Homo sapiens: one gene and its partners. The protein of the gene in region 1 purifies or fractionates together with the protein of each later gene. This does not show direct contact. Each region holds a gene or a part of one and is shown in the gene's direction. Other genes may lie near its edges.

Region 1 (7,214 bases):
ATCTCCTGACCTCGTGATCCACCCGCCTCGGCCTCCCAAAGTGCTGGGCTTACAGGCATGAGCCACCACACCTGGCCTGTTTCTGTTTTGAGACAGAGTCTCGCTCTGTCATTTCGGCTGGAGTACAGTGGCAAGTGCAGTGGTGCATTCTTGGCTCACTGCAACCTCTGCCTCCTGGGTGCAAGCCATTCTCCTGCCTCAGCCTCCCAAATAGCTGGGACTGCAGGCATGTACCACCACACCCAGCTAATTTTTGTATTTTTAGTAAATATGAGGTTTCACCATGTTGGCCAGGCTGGTCTTGACTCCTGACCTCAGATGATCTACCTGCCTCAGCCTCCCAAAGTGCTGGGATTACAGGTGTGAATCACTGCTCATGGCCACCCAGGCAGGTTTTGAACTCCTGGCCTCAAGACATCCTCCCACCTTGGCCTCCCAAAATGTTGGCATTACAGGCATGAGCCACCATGCTTGGCCTAAAACATAAGTAATTTTAAAAATGATTTTATTTGCTGGGCGCAGTGGCTCACGTCTGTAATCCCAGCACTTTGGGAGGCCGAGGCAGGCAGATCACCTGAGGTCAGGAGTTCAAGACCAGCCTGGTGAACATGGTGAAACCCCGTCTCTACTAAAAAGAGATCGTGCCACTGCATTCCAGCCTGGGCGACAGAGACTCCATCTAAAAAAAAAAAAAATTTATTTTTTCAAAGACAGGGTCTCCCTACGTTGCCCAGGCTGGACTTGAACTCTTGGGCTTAAGCAATCCTCCCACCTCAGCCTCTCAAGTAGCTGGGACTACAGGTGGCTACTAGTAATGTTTATATTAAGCTGGGTCATAATATCTCTTTTAAGGTTTATGGCCAATTTTTTTTTTTTTTTGAGACAGAGTCTCGTCACCCAGGCTGGAGTGCAGTGGGGAGATCTCGGCTCACTGCCACCTCCACCTCACAGGTTCTGCCACAGCCTCCCAAGTAGCTGGGATTACAAGCACCCACCACCAAGCCTGGCTAATTTTTGTATTTTTAGTAGAGACAGGGTTTCACCGTCTTGGCCAGGCTGGTCTTGAACTCCTGACCTCATGATCCACCCATCTCAGCCTCCCAAAGTGCTGGGATTACAGGCGTGAGCCACGCGTGCCCCGTCTTTTTTTTTTTTTTTTTTTTTTTTTGAGATGGAGTTTCGCTCTTGTCACCCAGGCTGGAGTGCAATGGCATGATCTCGGCTCACTGCAACCTCTGCCGCCCAGGTTCAAGCAATTCTGCCTCCGCCTCCCAAGTAGCTGGGATTACAGGCGCCTGCCACCACGCCCAGCTAATTTTTGTATTTTTAGTAGAGATGGGGTTTTGCCATGTTGGCCAGGCTGGTCTTGAGCTCCTGACCTCAGGTGATCCACCTGCCTTGGCCTCCCAAAGTGCTGGGATTACAGGCATGAGACACCGCGCCCGGCCCAATTTTTATTCCCTATACCCAGGAGACTTTTCTTTTTTTGAGACAGAGTTTTGCTCTTGTCGCCCAGGCTGTAGTGCAATGGCATGATCTCGGCTCACTGCAACCTCCACCTCCTGGGTTCAAGCAATTCTCCTGCCTCAGCCTCCCTGGTAGCTGGGATTCCAGGCATGCGCCACCACGCCCGGCTAATTTTGTGTTTTTTAGTAGAGATGGGGTTTCTCCATGTTGGTCAGGCTGGTCTCGAACTCCCAACCTCAGGTGATTCGCCCGCCTCGGCCTCCCAAAATGCTGGGATTACAGGCGTGAGCCACCGCGCCCGGCCTCCAGGAGACATTTTTACCATTTTGCACCCTTTCCCTTTGACTTCCTAATACAAAATTAACAACTTCTAAGTTGTTATCTTATTAGAAAGCCCCCTTATAAAATAGGATTGTTCTCACCTTCAATTAACAATTTTTTTAATTGCTCAAATCAGTCTATAAAGTTCTCTTTTGCAATTTGTGACTCTGGACATATATTTAAATTCAGTCGTTACAGGAGGATCAATTGGACCCAGAAGTCAAGACTGCAGTGACCTGTGATACCACTACTGCACTCCAGCCTGAGTTAAAGTGAGACCCTGTCTCAAAAACATAAAAAAAAAAAAAAATTTAGCCTGACATTCAGTGCCACCATTATTTGGTTGTGACCTATTTTTTCTTTTCTTTTTTTTTTTTTTTTTTTTTTTTTTACACAGAGTCTCACTGTCACCAAGCTGGAGTACAGTGGTACAATCTAGACTCGCTGCAACCTGCGTCTTCCGGGTTCAAGAGATTCTCCCACCTAAGACTCCTGAGTACCTGGGATTATAGGCACACCACGCCCAGCTAATTTTTGTATTTTTAGTAGAGATGGGGTTTTGCCATGTTGGCCAGTCTGGTCTTGAACTCCTGACCTCGTGATCCGCCCGCCTCGGCCTCCCAAAGTATTGGGATTACAGGCGTCAGCTACTGCTCCTGGCCAAATATTTTGTATTTTTAGTAGGGACGGGGGTTTCACCATGTTAGCCAAGCTGGTCTTGAACTCCTGATCTCCAGTAATCCACTGGCCTCGGCCTCCCAAAGTGTTGGGATTACAGGCGTGAACCAGTGCGCCAAGTTAACTTCCTTTTTTTTTTTTTTTTTTTTTTGAGACCCAGACTCACTCTGTCGCCCAGGCTGAAGTGCAGTGGCGCGATCTCGGCTCACTGCAACCTCCGCCTCCCGGGTTCAAGCGATTCTCCTGTCTCGCTCTCCCGAGTAGCTGGGACTAGAGGCGTGTGCCACCACACCCGGCTGATTTTTTTTTATTTTTAGTAGAGACGGGGTTTCACCATGTTAGCCAGGATGGGCTCAATCTCCTGACCTCGTGATCTGCCCGCCTCTGCCTCCCGAAGTGCTGGGATTACAGGCGTGAGCCACCGCGCCCGGCCCCTTCCCTTTTTTTTTTTTTTTTTGACACAGGGTCTCACTCTGTCGCCCAAGTTGGAGTGCTCACTGCAACCTCCGCCTCCCGGGTTCGGGGTTCGAGCTATCCTCCCGCCTCATACTAGCTAGTATTTGGCATTACAGGCAAGTGCCACCACGCCCTGCTAATTAGTATTTTTAGTAGAGATGGGGTTTCACCATGTTGGGTGGGCTGGTCCTGAACTCCTGACCTCAGGTGATCCGCCCACCGAACTTCCCAAAGTACTGGGATTATAGGCGTGAGCCACGGGCGCCCCGCCCAATTTCCCTTTTTAATGGCATTTGAGCTAGGGTCCAGGTTTCGTAGCTCCCACTACCTGTCCTGCACAACACAGACACTAAATACCTTAGTGCTTATTATGAAGCCCCGTTCTTCAGAAAGGTTTTATAGCACTTTCGTTAAACCTCCTTCCTGTTCAAAATGCAGCGCACTAGAGTATTTTTCCCCAATCCACCGTTAAGCGGCTTCTTCTTAAGCAGGACTGTTTTGGGTCTCTTGGTTGCTACCCCTACTACACCCTACTAATATGTTGCACAAAGCGACGGGGAACCCCTTCTCCCCCAAACGATGTGCGTGGAAACACACAATGTCCTACTCTCTCCATTCCCAGAAACCTAGACTCTCCCCTCAAATACCTTTCCTGGCTCATCTACAGCACTAAGGTCTCAAGGTAGGGGCAAAAGCCCGCCCCAATTGGCAAATGCTCCTCCTCCGCCAAGAACCTCGAATTTCCGCTGTCCCTGGACAGAGCCTCCAACCTTCAGAAAAATGGCGAGGTGGACCCAGGCCCTTGATTCTGAAGTGAGCCCTTTTCCACAGCACAGGCTTTTTACAGGTTTTTGTGGTGGAATGATGACTCAGTGAGCTGATTTACTCCCTCAAGAGTAACCAACGCGCCATTTCAGTTCTCCAGGATCCCGACTCCGTGTCCCTCCGCCTCAGCCTTGCCTCCCACTGTCAACGCAACCGTTTCTCAGAGAAATCGCCGAAGGCGCATGGCAGGGCAGTTGGGCCACTAACGGTTTTCTAACGCGAGAAGACAGAGCGGGAGGAGAGGCGGGAACGCGTAGGGACTAGCAGGGGGCGGAGTGGGGGTGGGGTGGCGGACGAAGGGCGGGGCCGGCGCCAGGAAGGATCGCGAAGGAGCTGGGAGGCCCCGCCCTTTCCGTAGATATCTCTAGAAAGCCGCGCCGGAGCCCAAAAACAAGGACTGCGCACGCGCGGCGGCAAGGCCCGGGCATTTTGCTGCGTCACCAGCCGCCGCCCGGCCTCACCACCCCTCGTTTGCACGCACGCACGTTCATTCTCCGTCCTCGCGCCCCTTTTCCTACACTTTCCTCTTCTCCCCGACCGGAGGAGCCGCTCTTTCCGCGCGGTGCATTCTGGGGCCCGAGGTCGAGCCCGCCGCTGCCGCCGTCGCCTGAGGGAAGCGAGAAGAGGCCGCGACCGGAGAGAAAAAGCGGAGTCGCCACCGGAGAGAAGTCGACTCCCTAGCAGCAGCCGCCGCCAGAGAGGCCCGCCCACCAGTTCGCCCGTCCCCCTGCCCCGTTCACAATGTGAGTGCGACACCCCGCCGAGGGAAGGTCGCCGAGTGAGGCCGAGGCCGCGTTGGGGGCTCCCTGGAAGCGGCCCCCTAGCCTTTCTCGCATCGGTGGTGGCAGTCGTTCCTGCCTGGGGGCGGGAGGTCCAGGATCCTTGTTCCGGTTACCGTTGGCGGGTGGAGGACATTTTTCCTCCAGATGTCTGCTTCCCCCACCCCTGAACCGTTCCTTGGCTTCCCCATGCCGGAAATCCTACTTTTACCCCTTTGGCTGTCTGGGTTACTCGCCTCTTTCGGTAACTTCACCCTAGGCCTTAAGCTCCCGGTAGCTGCTCGCCATGCGGCGCCCTGAAGCGTGAACCTTCGTGGGTCGCCTCTCGGCTGCTTGGGCGCTCCGGTTCTGTTGCTTTGTGGTCCCGGGGCCAGGCCCTGAGTCGAGTGCACCTGTGGTGGGTGCCGCCAGGTGCCTGGCGGAGCTCCTGGGAGAGCCCCACGCGGACCTCGCCGTGAGCTGCAGGTACTGCTAGGCAACTAGAAGGAAGCCATGCCCACGCCGCAACATACTTCCCTCTCCAGTGTCTGGGTTTCTTGAGTGTGGGTACTTCCAGTCCGCCTCCTAACTCCAGTCTCTTGAAAACACGGGAGGTTGCCAAAACTCAGCCGCTTCCCTGGCAGCGAGGAGGAGTTACCATTGAGCAGGTAGTTCCGCACGTGTCGACTTTGGAAAGATACGGACATTTTCTGTGTTTCATGTTCTACTTGAGGTGAGGTTTCACTATCTTGTTACAGTGTAGGATGAAATAGGTATGTAGTAGGCATTTAATTAACCTACAGTCGTCCCAAAGATCTTAAATTTGTGTGGAGGTGAATACAGATTCTATGGCAGTCTTCATTTTACGATGATAAAGGAAAGCCTTGGCGATTTTAACCGGTAAGAATTCTTGGCACTGCCGCGTACAGTGGGAACTGCCGGTTTTACAGGGTTTTTTTTTTTTTTTTTTTTTTTTTGACGGGAGGTTATTTTTCAAGGTACTAACTACGTCCTAAAAGGTATGGAGAACAATTAAGGTGGAACCTTTTTTTTCTTTTGTTTTAGACTCCATTCAGAAGAGAGAAGAGGGGAGTGACTTTATGTCTTTGGAAAAGTAATAAGGATTTGCTTGATTCAAGTCATGATACTGAGGCTGAGTATATTGGCTAGAAATCTAAAGGGATGCGTGAGGCTGAAGCGAGTTTATCACTGGGAACAAGCTTCTAGAGCACAGCATGTTAGAATTTTTGAAGGAGCCCCCTCCCCGAAAGTGATACGTAATCGGGGTTTTAAAAAATTTGAATTAGGCTGGGCGCGGTGGCTCACAACTGTGATCCCAGCACTCTGAGAGGCCGAGGCGGGCGGATCACCTGAGGTCGGGAGTTCGAGACCAGACTGACCAACATGGAGAAACCGCGTCGCTGCAAAAATACAAAAAAAATTAGCCGGGCGTGGTGGCACATGCCTGTAATCCCAGCTACTCGGGAGGCTGAGGTTAGGAGAATCGCTTGAATCTGGGAGGTGGAGGTTGCGGTGAGCCGAGATCATGCCATTGCACTCCAGCCTGGGCAACAAGAGTGAAAACCCGTCTCAAAATAAATAAATAAATTTGAATGTATATAAAATAGTTTTTGCTTTTCTATTTGAAAGCTCTCCTAAGTAATGTAGAAGGGACATCAGTCTTAACCTTTCATACTCTGAAAATCTGTAAGGGGAAATTTTTTGTCAGATGAGGCATTAAGCAGCTTTTAATAATAGAGCCAAACAACATATCTTTTCGCGAAAAGTATGTTTAAAATTGGCTTGAAGTAGAAGCATTTGATGGAGGCCACATGAGATATTTAAATAGGTAAGGAACGGCTATTACTAGGAAAGTAGATTTAAAAACTTGGGTGAAAAGTAAGTGTAAGGCCAGGCGCGGTGGCTCACGCCTGTAATCCCTATACTTGGGAGGCCGAGGCAGGCGGAACACGAGGTCAGGAGTTAGAGACCAGCCTGGCCAATATGGTGAAACCCCGTTTCTACTAAAAATACAAAAACTAGCTGGGTGTGGTGGTGCATGCCTGTAGTCCCAGCTACTCCGGAGGCTGAGGCAGGAGAATCGCTTGAACCCAGGAGGTGAAGGTTTCAGTGAGCAGAGATTGCGCCGTTGTACTCCAGCCTGGGCAATAGAGGGAGACTCCGTCTCAAAAAAAAAAAAAAAAAAAAAAAAGTAAGTGTAGCAGTAGAGAGACTATTCCAAAAAGTAGCCTCTCTAGTTAAAAAATAAAAATGCTACTTTCATGCCGGGCGGGGTGGCTCACTCCTGTAATCCCAGCACTTTGGGAGGCCGAGGCGGGTGGATCACGAGGTCAGGAGATCGAGACCATCCTGGCTAACACGGTGAAACCCCGTCTCTACTAAAAATACAAAAAATTAGCCGGGTGTGGTGGCGGGCGCCTGTGGTCCCAGCTACTTGGGAGGCTAAGGCAAGAGAATGGCTTGAACCCGGAAGGCGGAGCTTGCAGTGAGCGGCGATTGCGCCACTGTACTCCAGCCTGGGCGACACAGCGAGACTGTCTTAAAAAAAAAAAAAAAAAAAAAGAAAAGAAAAAATGCTACCTTCAAAACGAGTGATTCAATGCCACTTGAAGAGTGTTGGGCTGGGGGAAACAAGTGTTTTGAAGAGACCAGCTAAAATATTCTTTTAAAAATAATATATGCCGTTTA
Region 2 (7,071 bases), on another chromosome or scaffold:
ATTTGCTTTCTTCTGGCTTCTGAAGATGGACATTAATGCTGTTAATTTTACATCTTTTCTTCCACACAAAGCATTTAAAACTAAATTTCCTTCCAGGCAGTAAGTTAGCTGCGTCCCGTGAATTTTAATACGTCGTATTTTCATTATCATTGAGTTAGAATTGTTTTCTAATTTTCTTTATGGTTTCTGATTTTATCCATAGATTATTGAGAAGGGTATTGTTTAACTCCCAAATATTTGGGGACTTCTAGATGTTACTGTTACTGATTTCTAATTTGGTCAGACAACACACTCTGGATGATTCCATTGGGGCTATTTTTAGATCTGTCTTGGCAAACATGCAGTATGTACTGGAAAATAGTGTGTATTTTGCAGTCGTTAGTCATAGGGCTCTATAAATGTCAATTAGTTCAAGATGGTTGAGACTGCTGTTAAAAATCTTTTATAGCCTATTTTTTCTAATTGCTCAATCATTTATTGAGGGGGCTGTTAAAAGCTCCGACTATACTTGTAGATTTGCCTATTTCTCCCTATAATTCTCAGTTTTTTGCTTCCTGTATTTTGAAATTTTTATTAGGCACACATTTAGGATTGTTATGCTTTCTTGATGAATTGACTCATTATAATGAAGTGACTTCAGTACTTTTTGGCTTGAAATCCCTGTTTTCTATTAAAATAGTTAAACCAGATTTTTACAGTTAATATTTGCATGCTATAACTTTTCTACCCTTTTGTATTTAACCCATTGGTATCTTTATATTTAAAATGTTTTTCTTATAAACAGCATATACTTGGGTCTTGCCTTTTTATCCAGTTGGACAATCTTTACCTTTTTTTTTTTGAGGTGGAATTTCGCTCTTGTTGCCCAGGTTGGAGTGCAATGGTGTGATCTTGGCTCACTGCAACTTCTGCCTCCTGGATTCAAGCAATTCTCCTGCCTCAGCCTCCAGAGTAGCTAGGATTACAGGCACACGCCACTATACCCAACTAATTTTTGTTTCGTTTTGTTTTTTGAGACGGAGTCTCATTCTGTCACCAGGGTAGAGTGCAGTGGCGCAATCTCAGCTCACTGCAACCTCTGTGTCCCAGATTCAAGTGATTCTCCTGCCTCAGCCTCCCGAGTAGCTGGGACTACAGGTGTGCACCACCATGCCCAGCTAACTTCTGTATTTTTAGTAGAGATGGGATTGTACCATGTTGGCCAGGATGGCCTCGATCTCTTGACCTCGTGATCCACCTGCCTCAGCCTCCCAAAGTGCTGGAATTACAGGCATGAGCCACCATGCCTGGCCTGATTTTTGTATTTTTAATAGAGACAGTGTTTCACCATGTTGGTCAAGTTGGTCTCAAACTCCTGACCTCAGATAATCCACCCACCTCGGCCTCCTAAAGTGCTGGAATTACAGGTGTCAGCCACCATTCCCAGCCAATCTTTACCTTTTAATTGGAGTGTTTAGTTCATTTATGTTTAACTATCAGCAATCATATGATTGCATTTCAATCTACTGTCTAGATGTCTCTTTTCTATATGTCCCATTTGTTTTTTTCCCCCTTGTTTCTCCTTCTTTGACTTTCTTTTGTGTGAATCAGGAATCTTTTAGCATTTCATCTGTTTTATTGAATTTTTTGTTATACTTTTGAATGTGTGTGGCGAGGGGTGGAGTGTTACATGGTTGCTCTAGAGCAGCCCTTCTCAGCTGAGGCTCTATAGAGAGAATTAAGCCCTAACTCCCTTAGGCATCCATTATATCCGCAGTGAATTAACTCCTCTCCTGTGAATCTGTGTGCTCTCCTTGGGAGAACTGAGCAGATATCACTGAAAATATTTTTTGTGGGGCTTAATCATTTCCCGGAACCCTGGATGAAAAAGGCTGCTCCAAAGATTACAATGTGTAACTTTAACTTGTCCTATTCTACTTTCAAATAATAATATGATACTTAATGGACAATATAAGAATCTTATGGCCTGGGGCAGTGGCTCATGCCTGTAATCCCAGCAGTTTCGGAGGCCGAGGCAGGTGAATCACTTGGGGTCAGGAGTTCCAGACTAGCCTGGTCAACATGGCAAAAACCCCATCTCTACAACCCTGTCTCTACTAAAAATACAAAAATTAGCCAGGCATGGTGGCACACACTTCTAATCCCAGCTGCTCGAGAGGCTGAGGCAGAAGAATCACTTGAACCCAGGAGGTGGAGGTTGCAGTGAGCCAAGGTCGTGCCACTGCACTCCAGCCTGGGCAACAGAGCGAGACTCCATCTCAAAAGAAAAAAAAAAAAAGAATCTTACAATATTGTGATTGCTTTTATTTTCTCCCAGCCTTTGTGCTCTTGTCATGCTTATGCATCTGCTATAAATACATTGTTGTCATTTCCTTAAATAGACACTAGTCTTCTAAAGAAATACACGTATGAATACACAGAAAATGTCTTTTATATTTACCCTTTCTCTTACTCCTTGTTTCTTCTTCCATATGTGAGTTTCTATCTGGTATCATGCCCCTTCTGCCTGAGTACTTTTAGCATTTCTTACAGTGCACGTCTGCTGTAGACTAATTCTCTCAGCTTTGGTCTGCCTGAAAATGTTTTTATTTTGTCTTCATTTTTAGGGGTGTCTTTGCTGGATGTAGAGTTCTAGGTTGACATTGTTTCTTTCAAGGCTTTAAATGTGTTTTTTTCCCATTGCCTTTTGACCTCCATTGTTTCTGTGAGAACTCAGCAATCATTCATATCTTTGTTCTATATAGTCTGCTTTTTTCTTCACTGGTTTTAAGATGTTGCCTTTGGGTTTTAGTAGTTTGACTATGATGGGCTTTGATGTGCTTTTTTTGAGTCTGTGGGTTAATATCTTTCATTAGTTTTGGAAAGTTCTTAGCCATTATTTCTTATATTTCTTCCCATTTCTGCTCTCCTCTCCGTCTGGAAAGCTAATAACATGCTCTTTGATACTATTTGATACTATTCCTTAGATCTTAATGACCTGAATTTTTTTAATTCTTTTCACGATTTTTCCTCTATGTATTTCAGTTCAGATAATTTCAGTTGTCCTTATGTTCACTGATTCTTTGTAACTGCTGTCAAGCCCAACAAATGAATTATTTATTTCTTACATTGTATTTTTTATTGGTAGCATTTTCATTTAGTTGTGTTTTTTTTAATAGACTTTTCATCTCTGTGTCTCATGTGTTCATGCATGTTGTCCACCTTTTCCACCAAGTCCTTTCACACATTTACCATGGTTATCTTAACGTCTCTGTCTGATAGTTCCATCATCTGGTTCATCTCTGAGTCTGCTCTGTTACCAGTTCTTCATGTGTTTTACAATTTTATTGTATGCCAGCTATTTTGTATAAAAGAACATTAGAGACTGAGGTAAATAAAGTTTTTCCTCAGAAAATGGCACACTTAGGCTGGGCACCATGGCTCAGGCCTGTAATCCTAGCACTTTGGGAGGCCAAGGTGGGCAGATCGCTTGAGCCCAGTAGTTCAAGACCAGCCTGGGCAACTTGTAGAAACCCCACCTCTACAAAAAAAATACAAAAATTAGCCAGGCATGGTGGTTGGCACCTGTAGTCCTAGCTACTTGGGAGGCTGAGTGGGGAGGATCACCTGAACCTGGGAGGTTGAGGCTGCAGTGAACTGTGTTCGAGCCACTGCACTCCAGCCTGGGTGACAGAGTGAGACCCTGTCTTAAAACAAATAAACAAATAAGAAAATGGCACACATTTCTCCTGTTGAGCCACAAGAGGGAGGGGCTGTGTGAACCTCATCTGTAGTTTAGGGGCAGCTTTTATTGGAGTTTCTTTACCACCGGCTTTAAATGTGTTCAGAGTAGAATTAGGACTTTCCCTTCAGCAGAGCTTGGGATCTTAGCCCTGGCAGAATTCCAGGGATGTCTTTATGTTTTAAAGTCGCCAGCTTTTGGAACTGTGGGAGGCCTCTGGTATTCAGCCCTGCCGCCAGACTGTGGGGCCACTGGGGTGCTCTCCGCTCTCCAGTCTCGCCCCCACTTCTGTACCTCAGGAGGTTTCTCTGCACCTCACTCCCTCGCGCCCAACCTTCCATGAAGCCCGTGTGAGGGAGTTGGCAGGGGGCAGAGGCGGGCTGTGCTGGGGCTCCCTGGAGTCCTCATCTGTCACGCCAGTCCCCACACGGTCATGAACTTCCACTCATTTCCCCTCACGCAGGGCATCCCGCCCTGCTGCCTCGCACCAGGGTGAAAGCTGTGGGCTCCTTCCCCAAGGAAGGGCTCGTCCTGTCTGCATTTTGATTAATTTAGGTCCCTTTGCATTGCCAGCTCTCAGATGGCTTTACCTTTGATTTTGTTGCTTGTTTGGCTTGTTTTCATCTTTAGGGCGAGACAGTCTTTTGTAACTTTTCTACCTTCTGACTAGAAGTGGATGCCGCCTGCATTTTCTTAACACCTTTTTCCCCAGCTTATTTTGGAAATCGTCAGACCTACAGAGAGCTGAAAGAACAGTACAGTTAACATCTGTCCACCCTTCACACAGATTCACCACTTGTGAACATTTTAATGCATTAACTTTATGTGTCTGTCTACTTATTTATGCATTTGTATGTGTATACTTTTTTCTTTTTTTTCCCCTAACCCATTTGAAAGTAAGTTGCAGCCATCATAACCTGGATCTCCCAAAAACAAAGACGTCCTCTTGTGTGACCACAGTTGAATTGTCCTACCTTAGAAATTCATCATTGATGTGATAATACTGACTAAGGTAGACAGTCCACAGGCCATCCGGAAAATCTGGAAACATTGACAAATATGCATGTCATTGTCAAGGTCATATCCAATCTGTGAAAAATAAATCATCTGCATTTCTAGACATCTATTAGTATTTTAATTCTCCCCAGCTCTCCCCAAAACATCCTTTTTAGCTGCTTTTAAAAAATTCAGCGTCCGTTGAAAGCACCAGTGTTGCCTATGACCTGCCTTTTTACCTCTTTTTACCTAGAAAGTCTCACTTCTTTTTTGGGAGACTCTTTTATGACAGTGACATTGCGCTGTGTCCAGGCCAGTTCTTTTATAAAATGTTCTACGATCTGGATTCATGCATGTATTTCCACTTGATGCTGAGTATTTTAAGATAATTCAAGAATCAGGTTTTCGTACAAAACAATCGCAATGCTTCGGCACTGCACAGGCCACAGAAGCCTGCGGCTGCCTCCGGCCCCGCCTGCTCCCGCTCCCCCAGGCCTGCCCTGCCCTTTTTCTTCTCTCCCTGCTTCTCCCTCGCCCTCAGCCCAGCAGCGTCTCATGGGCAGTCCAGGCTTTCGGGGCCAGGTTGGGCAGCAGCCCCTGCAGCCGGTCCCACTGAGTCTGCCCTGCCTTCCAGATTCTGGTACAGGTCAAAGAGGTCCTCTCCAAGCTGAGCACGCTCGTGGAAACCACACTCAAAGAGGTGCGCGTTGTGGGGCAGTGCGGGGAGGGCCAGCGGGGGTGGGCTCTCTGGCTGGGGAGGGGCCACAGAGCTCAGGAACTCACGGATCCACCTCCCTCTCTCCCTCACACCCCACCCCTGTGCCTTTCCTCCTGAATATCCCATTTCTCTCCTGGCCTCTTGGTCTTCGTTTGTGTTCCCTGCTTGTGTCTCTTGCATGATTCTTCTTGGTCTACTGTGAACTCTTACCCTTCCCCTCACCTCTGCCCCCTCCCCACGTCTCTCTCTCGGCCCGTCCCTCTCCGGTGGCCTCTTTTCTTTCAGACAGAGAAGATTACAGTATGTGGGGACACCCATGGCCAGTTCTATGACCTCCTCAACATATTCGAGCTCAACGGTTTACCCTCGGAGACCAACCCCTATGTATCCTTCTCAGCAGAGCCACCCTCTCCCCACCTCCACCCCCAGCCGCAGCCTCAGGTCTGCACAGAGTGGGAGGAGCCCTTGCCAGGAAAAGACGTGACCTTGGAAAGGAGAGGCCTGGCCATGCTGGGGCACCAAGGTGTGGGTGGAGCTGCAGGCTGGCCATGCACCCCAGGCTCCAGGCTCGGACAGGCCTGGGCCAGCACCCACCTGCTGTGTGACCTAAGCTGGTAGCTCAGTCTCTCTGGGTCTTGGCTTGTCTTCGTCTGCCTCAGGATCACATTTGAATGGCACCTGGCACTGGCCACACTTGGGTTCCATCCTGGCTTTGCCACTTCCCAGCTGTGTGACCGAAGCAGGTTACTTCACTGCTTGGTGTCACAGTTTCCCCATTTGCAAAGAGGGATAATAATATGTGCAACCTTGTTACTCAGCAGTTACTGAGAGGACAGGTTAAGAACAGGGCCTGGCCCACACCTGATGCTATCTAAGTATTTCCCCGTGTTATGGTATCTGCTCGATGAACGGCCACTTGTAGGGCCACTAGGCCTATGCATTGTTGAGTGGGAGGGCCCGTGTCCCATCTCCCCCATGGCTCCAGGCCTCTCTGAGGAGAGCTGAAGGAGGTGGACTGACTAGTCCCCGCACCTCCCCGCCACTGGCTTTCCGGGAGACAGGAGGCAGGGTCCTCAGTGCCATACTACTGAGGCTCAGCGGCCAAGCTCTGGCTGGAGCCACGGTGAGGAAAGGATTAGAAACCCAGATCCCTTGAGCCCTGCCAAGTCCTCACTCCCTGGGAGGTGCTGACAGGAGGCTTGAGGCCAGGCAGGAGCAGCCCATCTGGCCCATCTTCTGCCACCACCCCCAACCCCACCGCACCGCACCCTTCCCCTCCACGCTTGCCATGTTTTCCTCAGCAGGACAGATATTTAATGGTGACTTTGTGGACCGAGGCTCCTTCTCTGTAGAAGTGATCCTCACCCTTTTCGGCTTCAAGCTCCTGTACCCAGATCACTTTCACCTCCTTCGAGGTGAGCTGGGAAGTGACAAGGTTTGGGTTCATTGTGGGGTCCTGAGTGGGGCACTCACTCTGCAAGGATAATAGTTGCAGCTGTATTTATTTTGTGGACTCGGAGATCATGCACAGGGCGACCTTTTAAGATTGAGTATGTAGTGCACTGCACAAAAGCATCACACCAAAGGACGCGTTTACATCATAGATAGTGTAGAAATGGATGTTTACTCTGACCAT
Region 3 (7,996 bases), on another chromosome or scaffold:
AGAAAACTATCAAAGATTAATGTGACCACATCTACAATACATAGGAACCAACTCAAATAATTTCTCACTGGCCAAAAGTGGGACGATTTGAGCATCAAAAAGAATAATTAATGCACTTCAAATATATGAAAATACATATATTCATGATCATTTTTTTAAAAAAGCTCATTAGAAGTTGCTAGAGCACTAACTCATTATTTTGAAAATTGATAAATGAAAAGAAACGTGGACCCTATCTTTCATCTACAAACTATATTTCAGGATAACCAAAGAGTTAATGAAAAATGTTATGGTAGAATTCCAGCTAATAAATTTAGGAGGAATGTTAGAATTAGAAATTCATTATTTTGCAACGTCTAATGAAATACTGGATTGAGTCACAATTAATGGATGCTAAAATAATCAGGTGATGTTTGATGAAAAACGTAATGTAGGAATCAGGCTGACACCACCTCAACCCATGAGCAATATTTCGTCATTAAAATGCAAGTATCAGACATATGTGCCTCATGATGTGATGTAATAGGAAATACACGGCAACTACCACAAAGTATGCTTACCTAAAATATAGAACCTCAATCTAATAAAAATCCTAAATCTACCTATTTGCAGAAATAGGAGTAATATCACAAGGAAGTAATCAGCTAAATCTAGAATATGGGACATTCCGTAGTACAAATGGCCTAGTTTCTACAGTAAATCTATAGTATGAAGGGTGAGATGCTGGTAAAATTGAGTAAAAGGGACTTAAGAAATATGACAATTTGTGATGGTATTAGGTGGGGCGGGGTGGAGGAAGAAACAACTAAGTGCAATGTATGGACTTGTTTAGATCTTGAATTGAATAAAGCAACTGTAAACAGAATCTTTGATATAATCGAAAAAAATTTAATACTTGGAGGATGATGGATAGTATTGAGATTTTTCTTAATTTTGTGTGATAATGGCATGGTGGATATGATTTTTGAAAGTTCTTATCAGATGTGCATATTGAAGTTGGGATATGCTTTATAATACTTTAGCAAAAAAAGTGGGGGACATAGTAGGGAGGAGGGTAGGGAAGAATTGTCTATCAACAAATGTTGATAATTGTTGAAGCTGATAACTGTTGAACTCATTAGGGCTGAGGTTGATTATACTATTATCTCTCTTTTTGCATATGTTTAACTTTTCCCACAAGAAAATGTTACAGGAAAAATTATTTAGCTTTCTCCAACCTGGGTTGGTATAAGTCACTGATTGTGACTATCCCAAAAGTTGGTTCAACATTAAGGTAATGTTTGTTAGGAAAAAAAATTAGATCGACACGTTATTTAGTATCCCAGGTTTTTGAGCATTTATTTAAAAAATTCGCTATAATGAGAGATGATTATAAATTTTTGTTATATTTCTGAGATGATCAATTTTAACAGGATTGGTGGTAATTTTTCAATCATAAACTGATAAAGTTTGATGACTGATAAATCGCCCCAATATATAGCAAATCTATTCAATTATTTTGTTTTCATAAGGGAACAACCTTGGTGGAAAGTACAGCTGTCTCCATGTACAAGGAGAAGCACATAGCTCACGTGTGCATCTGGCAGAACCCCCAGTACAGAGACAAGCAGGTGCTGTTTTCCAATGACACCTACTTGTGTGTGTCCTAATACTATAGTTAGAAAATGGCTCAGATTTTTGAGTTGCTTTTCCCAGAACTCAAAGATTGTCTTCCTGTTTATCTTGGTGGAATGCCTATGCTATACTTGTGATTTTTCTGTTCTCTGTAACCTATTAAAACAAGATTGTCACAGATGGGGAAACAAGAGGTCATTAGTTAACAATCAGATGTTCGATTTCTTGAGCAGAAAAGATACTCTGTTGTGTTTTTAAAAACATTTTTAAAGGAGAAATAGGGCTACTCCTTGGAAGGCAGATTGTTGTTCAGTGGGCTTTCCTCAAGAGTCAACACAGTCGTTTCTAAATTCATTTCCTCCTTCAATTCTGTTCTTGTAGTTAACATAAGCTTTGCCTCTTTTAGTTCTTGTCAGTTCACAGTGGCTACTTCTTTATAGCTTAACTAAATACTGCCAGAAGAGCAAAGGGAAGCCAAATAGGTGGTCAATTAGCTTTGTCTAAGTTGGTATGATATGGAGAGGAAAGCACTGTTACTTTAATTCATTCTTCAGTTTCTAGAACAGTTGCTTTTGATTAGGTTAGGGGCAGAAAAACATTTGTAATAATTAATGGCTTTGAGAGACACAAGGCTTTGTTTGCCCCAGAGTATTAGTTAACCCACCTAGTGCTCCTAATCATACAATATTAAGGATTGGGAGGGACATTCATTGCCTCACTCTCTATTTGTTTCACCTTCTGTAAAATTGGTAGAATAATAGTACCCACTTCATAGCATTGTATGATGATTAAATTGGTTAATATTTTTAAAATGCTTAGAACACAGATTGGGCACATAACAGCAAGCACCACATGTGTTTATAAGATAAATTCCTTTGTGTTGCCTTCCGTTAAAGTTTAAATAAGTAAATAAATAAATAAATACTTGCATGACATTTTGAAGTCTCTCTATAACATCTGAGTAAGTGGCGGCTGCGACAATGCTACTGGAGTTCCAGAATCGTGTTGGTGACAAGATTGTTCACCAGCATATGGTGTGGTGAAAACTCACTAATTTGGAATTAGTTCAGATTATTAAGCCTGAATAGGTGAAAATCCTGAAATCAAGGATCTTTGGAACTATTTGAAATCAGTATTTTATATTTTCCTGTTGTATTCATTAAAGTGTTGCAAGTGTTCTATTTGATGGATTAAGTATATTTAGGATATACATGTTCAATTTGTGATTTTGTATACTTAATTGGAACAAGAAAGCTAATAAAGGTTTTGATATGGACATCTATTCTTTTAAGTAAACTTCAATGAAAATATATGAGTAGAGCATATAGAGATGTAAATAATTTGTGGACACACCACAGACTGAAATAGCAAATTTAAAAGAAATTGTTGGAAGAATCAAGTGTTTGTGGAATGAGTCCTCCTAGTAAAGTTCCTGCTCTTGTGAATAATTAAGCCTCATGTATAATTACTATAGCAAAAGGAAGCCTAAGAAGTATTAGACTCTACTTGTATTTAAATTACATTTTACATAATTTATGTGTATGAAAAATGTTTTAAATGCTTATTTTCGTAAGCCATGAGATAGCTCCTTTATATTTTAAGAATTTCTGAATTAATTTGCTTGGATTTTATTAGTGCAAATGGCAGAGCTAGCAATTCCTTTTTCTGTGTTCCCATTCCATCCTATTCATCCCTCTTTTAGGAAACTCTGAACTCTGGATTGTCCTTGTTTACATACCTGCCTCCTGCATTGGACTATGTGTCTCTGAGTGTAGTATGACTAATTCATTTGTTTGTCAAGGACTCTCAATGCATTTGTTGAACAGCCTAATTAGTAATGTCTGCAACAATGACATTTTACTGTATTTAATAAAGCTCTGGGAAAGTAGGATACACATAAGACAGGTCTAGGTCTAAATTCTTTACAGAAACTTGGATTTTTAGTTCGGTTTGAAATTTGAAGATGTGAGTATATTTATCTCAGTTTCCCAAAGGACAAGCTAATTGGAATTATCATCCTCTTTCACTTGATTGGATCCCCAGAATGCCATTTACGCATGCAGCAGGATTTTATAACAGTTTTAAATTCTGTATATTTGATGAAGAGGTTTTATATTTTTGGATTCAAGCCTCTTTTTAAACTTCTACAATATGGTTTACAATAATTCCTTATATCCTGCTTTTGAAATACATATTACAACTTTTTAAGTTTGGAAGGCTATATTTCAAGGACTGAAGTTACAGTATACTCAAGTGATACACAAGCCTAGCACCCCACTTTCCACATAGTGTTCGATAAAGATTGATAAACTCGAAATCACAGACCTTTTAATTCTTAAGACAAATAGCAGCAGAAAGAAACATCTTTGGCTTATTTCTGGTAAGGTTTTTATGCTCTGTAAAACAAAGAATTGTATTCATCCGCGCAGCACAGATTCTATTAAAAATAAATGTGAGAGTCGTTAATGTAGTACTGCTCATTTACCATCAAAATTCACTTTTCAGGAATAATCCCATCAGTTTAAATTGGATATTGGAATGAGCATTGATTACATTTAACTTGGTAGCCCAAAATTTCTTCATGGGGTTTTGAACTCGGCGGGATTTCAAAGGTTTTAAAAATGAGTTTTTGATTTTTTTTAAAACCCTCAAATTTCATTACCTTTAAACTAGGTCGAAACGGGGCGCAAGAGATTGGATTAACACCATAGTAATACTTATTTTGTTCTTAACCATTTCAGGGCTTCTTGAAATAGAGGCTGTATGGTGTAATGGAAAAAACAGCCTTGGAATCTGGGAGCCTGATTCCTGGATTCAGTCCCAGTTTTGCGTGACCTTGGGCAAGTTACTTTACTTCTCTGAATTTCCGTTTCCTCCTCTGCAAAATGAGGATCGCAATAGCCACCTTGCAACCTTGACTGGAGCGAGCCTCGCACACCCCGCGCCGGCCTGGAGGAAGAGCAGCCATGATTACGCCGCCTTCGCTCCGCTACCCGCTTGCGGCTGGCGCCCTCCTCCAGCAGGTGTAGGCGCTGCCGCGCTGCCCCACGCCTTTCCGCCGCTCGCGGGCCTGCGCCTCGGCGTCCCCGAGGAGGCCGCTGCGGGCTGAGGTAGCGCACCGGCCTCTCGGCGTCCCAGTCCGGTCCCGGGCGGAGGGAAAGCGGGCGACCCACCTCCGAGGCAGAAGCCGAGGCCCGGCCCCGCCGAGTGCGGAGGAGCGCAGGCAGCCCCCGCCCCTCGGCCCTCCCCCCGGCCCTCCCGGCCCTCCCTCCGCCCCCTCCGCCCTCGCGCGCCGCCCGCCCGGGTCGCCGCGGGGCCGTGGTGTACGTGCAGAGCGCGCAGAGCGAGTGGCGCCCGTATGCCCTGCGCTCCTCCACAGCCTGGGCCGGGCCGCCCGGGACGCTGAGGCGGCGGCGGCGGCCGAGGGGGCCGGTCTTGCGCTCCCCAGGCCCGCGCGCCTGAGCCCAGGTTGCCATTCGCCGCACAGGCCCTATTCTCTCAGCCCTCGGCGGCGATGAGGCGCTGAGGCGGCTGCCGGCGCTGCGCCGGAGCTTAGGACTCGGAAGCGGCCGGGCCGAGGGCGTGGGGTGCCGGCCTCCCTGAGGCGAGGGTAGCGGGTGCATGGCGCAGTAACGGCCCCTATCTCTCTCCCCGCTCCCCAGCCTCGGGCGAGGCCGTCCGGCCGCTACCCCTCCTGCTCGGCCGCCGCAGTCGCCGTCGCCGCCGCCGCCGCCGCCATGGCCAATGACAGCGGCGGGCCCGGCGGGCCGAGCCCGAGCGAGCGAGACCGGCAGTACTGCGAGCTGTGCGGGAAGATGGAGAACCTGCTGCGCTGCAGCCGCTGCCGCAGCTCCTTCTACTGCTGCAAGGAGCACCAGCGTCAGGACTGGAAGAAGCACAAGCTCGTGTGCCAGGGCAGCGAGGGCGCCCTCGGCCACGGAGTGGGCCCACACCAGCATTCCGGCCCCGCGCCGCCGGCTGCAGTGCCGCCGCCCAGGGCCGGGGCCCGGGAGCCCAGGAAGGCAGCGGCGCGCCGGGACAACGCCTCCGGGGACGCGGCCAAGGGAAAAGTAAAGGCCAAGCCCCCGGCCGACCCAGCGGCGGCCGCGTCGCCGTGTCGTGCGGCCGCCGGCGGCCAGGGCTCGGCGGTGGCTGCCGAAGCCGAGCCCGGCAAGGAGGAGCCGCCGGCCCGCTCATCGCTGTTCCAGGAGAAGGCGAACCTGTACCCCCCAAGCAACACGCCCGGGGATGCGCTGAGCCCCGGCGGCGGCCTGCGGCCCAACGGGCAGACGAAGCCCCTGCCGGCGCTGAAGCTGGCGCTCGAGTACATCGTGCCGTGCATGAACAAGCACGGCATCTGTGTGGTGGACGACTTCCTCGGCAAGGAGACCGGACAGCAGATCGGCGACGAGGTGCGCGCCCTGCACGACACCGGGAAGTTCACGGACGGGCAGCTGGTCAGCCAGAAGAGTGACTCGTCCAAGGACATCCGAGGCGATAAGATCACCTGGATCGAGGGCAAGGAGCCCGGCTGCGAAACCATTGGGCTGCTCATGAGCAGCATGGACGACCTGATACGCCACTGTAACGGGAAGCTGGGCAGCTACAAAATCAATGGCCGGACGAAAGTAAGTGTGTGCTGCGGGTTTGTGCTGGACAGGCCCTTCTCGGCGGGCAGCCCCTGCCTGCGACTGAAACTGCCTAGGCTGAGAAGCAGCATTCCTCTATATAGAAGGGACTCGCTCTTTCTTGTGTAGCTCCCCGTAAGGAAGACGGACAGAATTTGTAGTAGCTGTTTATCTAGTTAGCCCCTTTGTATCCACTGTTTTCCACTTACTGCCCGTTCACAAACTTCTCCGGCTAATTGCATGGTTTTTTGACTCAACGTAGGCGCTTTAACTTTCCTATTTTCTTTTTTCCATTCCACTATTGGTCACAATTCAAACCTTAGTGGCGTTTTAGCCACCCAGTGAAGGGGTGTTAGAGTACCACCCAAAGCAAGTCCTGGTTCTGCATCTGCCTTGTGTTTGCATAAGCTGTTAAATTTCCTATGGTGTCTGAACCACTCATCACATTTCGATTGAGAGTCAAACGCTGTGTTCAGTTAGGAATTTGCCGGCTGACCGCAAAAAGGTACATTTAAAATAAGCATTTAGTCGAAAGACTCTGTATTCAGGAAGAGCTTGGCTACTCCCCTCCCCCTGTTATAGCTCTTATCCCTCACCCTGTTCCTACTGTTTTGAAACCCGTTACAAAAAGGGGAAAGAAGTATTTCCGTCTTCAGGCCTCTCAGTGTAGGTAGGCTACATTTTTAGCACCAGTTTCCTTTATTTGCTTTGTTAATGTAATCCTTCTGTTGAAAACTGTTTTGTAACTTCCTGGAAAACAAAACAAAACAAAACAACAACACGGAATTGGCGCAGGAGGGCTCGTTTTATCCTCCCAATTTGGTGAGATCTTTTTGTTTTCTCTTTACTATTGCGGTTTTTCCTCCACAGATTTCTTCACTTCTTACCTAGTCTATTCCCTCTTTCCTCCCTCATGATAAACAGTAGACTCTTTCGTCCTTAACCAACTCTCTTGCAGCTCTTTTTCATTTTACTTCTCAGATCTTGATCTTTTCTTTGTGGCTGCTCCCAGGCCACCCTCCTCCACCATCAGTCTCTGATTTTGTGGGTTTTGAGAGATTGACCTGGGAGAGCATCACAGTTGCATGTTTGTACACACACGCTGACTCTAACTAGTGGTTTTTCTGTATGTGTGTGTCAGATCATCTACTTTGACAGTCATTACATGTGATTCTCAGGCTGCCCGAAAGACTGAACATAGGCAGTGAGAAAGTTATAAACGTGAACATTTTGTGGGGAAAAATACAATGTGGAGTCTAATTTACCTATTGCCACTTCATTGCTGGATGAAGGCACAAGTCTTAATTTCTTGTAGTCTTAAAAAGGAACAGTTGAATAATATTAAACTGGAAGGAAAAGGGGGATCTGATGAAATTTCAGCGTTGGTCTTTCACTAGATTTTCATTGATAAAATTTTTAAGAAAGTTGTCAGGGCACAACTTTAAGAAATTGTCACATCTGAACATAAAGTCCTGAGCTCCAGAGCAGGAAAGAAATTAGTTTGAGACAATAGGGCTGTGAAGACTGACCAAAGTATATAGTTGGGACATAAGCTTAAATTGGATTCTTGAAGAAGATGATGTCCCAAATCTTTCTTGATCTGCTTTCCTTAGTTAATTTAGCTTTCCAAGTTAAGCTGAGACCTCTTTTCTCTTTTGTCTTCCTGCTTTCACCTGTCCTTAGAGAAGGGACAGCAGACAGCCTGGCTCTTAGAGCAAATGCTTCTCATAGAGATGCTATTAGGAAATAGGTAC

The links. The genes of interacting proteins can lie anywhere in the genome.
Region 2: the proteins of PTGES3 (region 1) and PPP5C purify together in Homo sapiens (affinity purification with mass spectrometry; 5 studies listed by BioGRID and IntAct, with this or other methods). This does not show direct contact.
Region 3: the proteins of PTGES3 (region 1) and EGLN1 purify together in Homo sapiens (affinity purification with mass spectrometry; 5 studies listed by BioGRID and IntAct, with this or other methods). This does not show direct contact.

What each region holds. Positions count from the first base shown.
Region 1 is NC_000012.12:56,685,274-56,692,487, reverse strand, and holds the start of PTGES3 (prostaglandin E synthase 3), read left to right. Parts: upstream 1-4,203; 5' UTR 4,204-4,488; coding exon 4,489-4,490; exon of another isoform or gene 4,491-5,224; coding exon of another isoform or gene 5,225-5,238; intron 5,239-5,570; exon of another isoform or gene 5,571-5,605; coding exon of another isoform or gene 5,606-5,619; intron 5,620-7,214. UniProt on the Homo sapiens protein: Cytosolic prostaglandin synthase that catalyzes the oxidoreduction of prostaglandin endoperoxide H2 (PGH2) to prostaglandin E2 (PGE2).
Region 2 is NC_000019.10:46,378,060-46,385,130, forward strand, and holds part of PPP5C (serine/threonine-protein phosphatase 5), read left to right. Parts: exon of another isoform or gene 1-4,465; intron 4,466-5,351; coding exon 5,352-5,417; intron 5,418-5,720; coding exon 5,721-5,819; intron 5,820-6,744; coding exon 6,745-6,850; intron 6,851-7,071. UniProt on the Homo sapiens protein: Serine/threonine-protein phosphatase that dephosphorylates a myriad of proteins involved in different signaling pathways including the kinases CSNK1E, ASK1/MAP3K5, PRKDC and RAF1, the nuclear receptors NR3C1, PPARG, ESR1 and ESR2, SMAD proteins and TAU/MAPT.
Region 3 is NC_000001.11:231,419,244-231,427,239, reverse strand, and holds the start of EGLN1 (egl nine homolog 1), read left to right. Parts: upstream 1-4,952; 5' UTR 4,953-5,351; coding exon 5,352-6,242; intron 6,243-7,996. UniProt on the Homo sapiens protein: Cellular oxygen sensor that catalyzes, under normoxic conditions, the post-translational formation of 4-hydroxyproline in hypoxia-inducible factor (HIF) alpha proteins.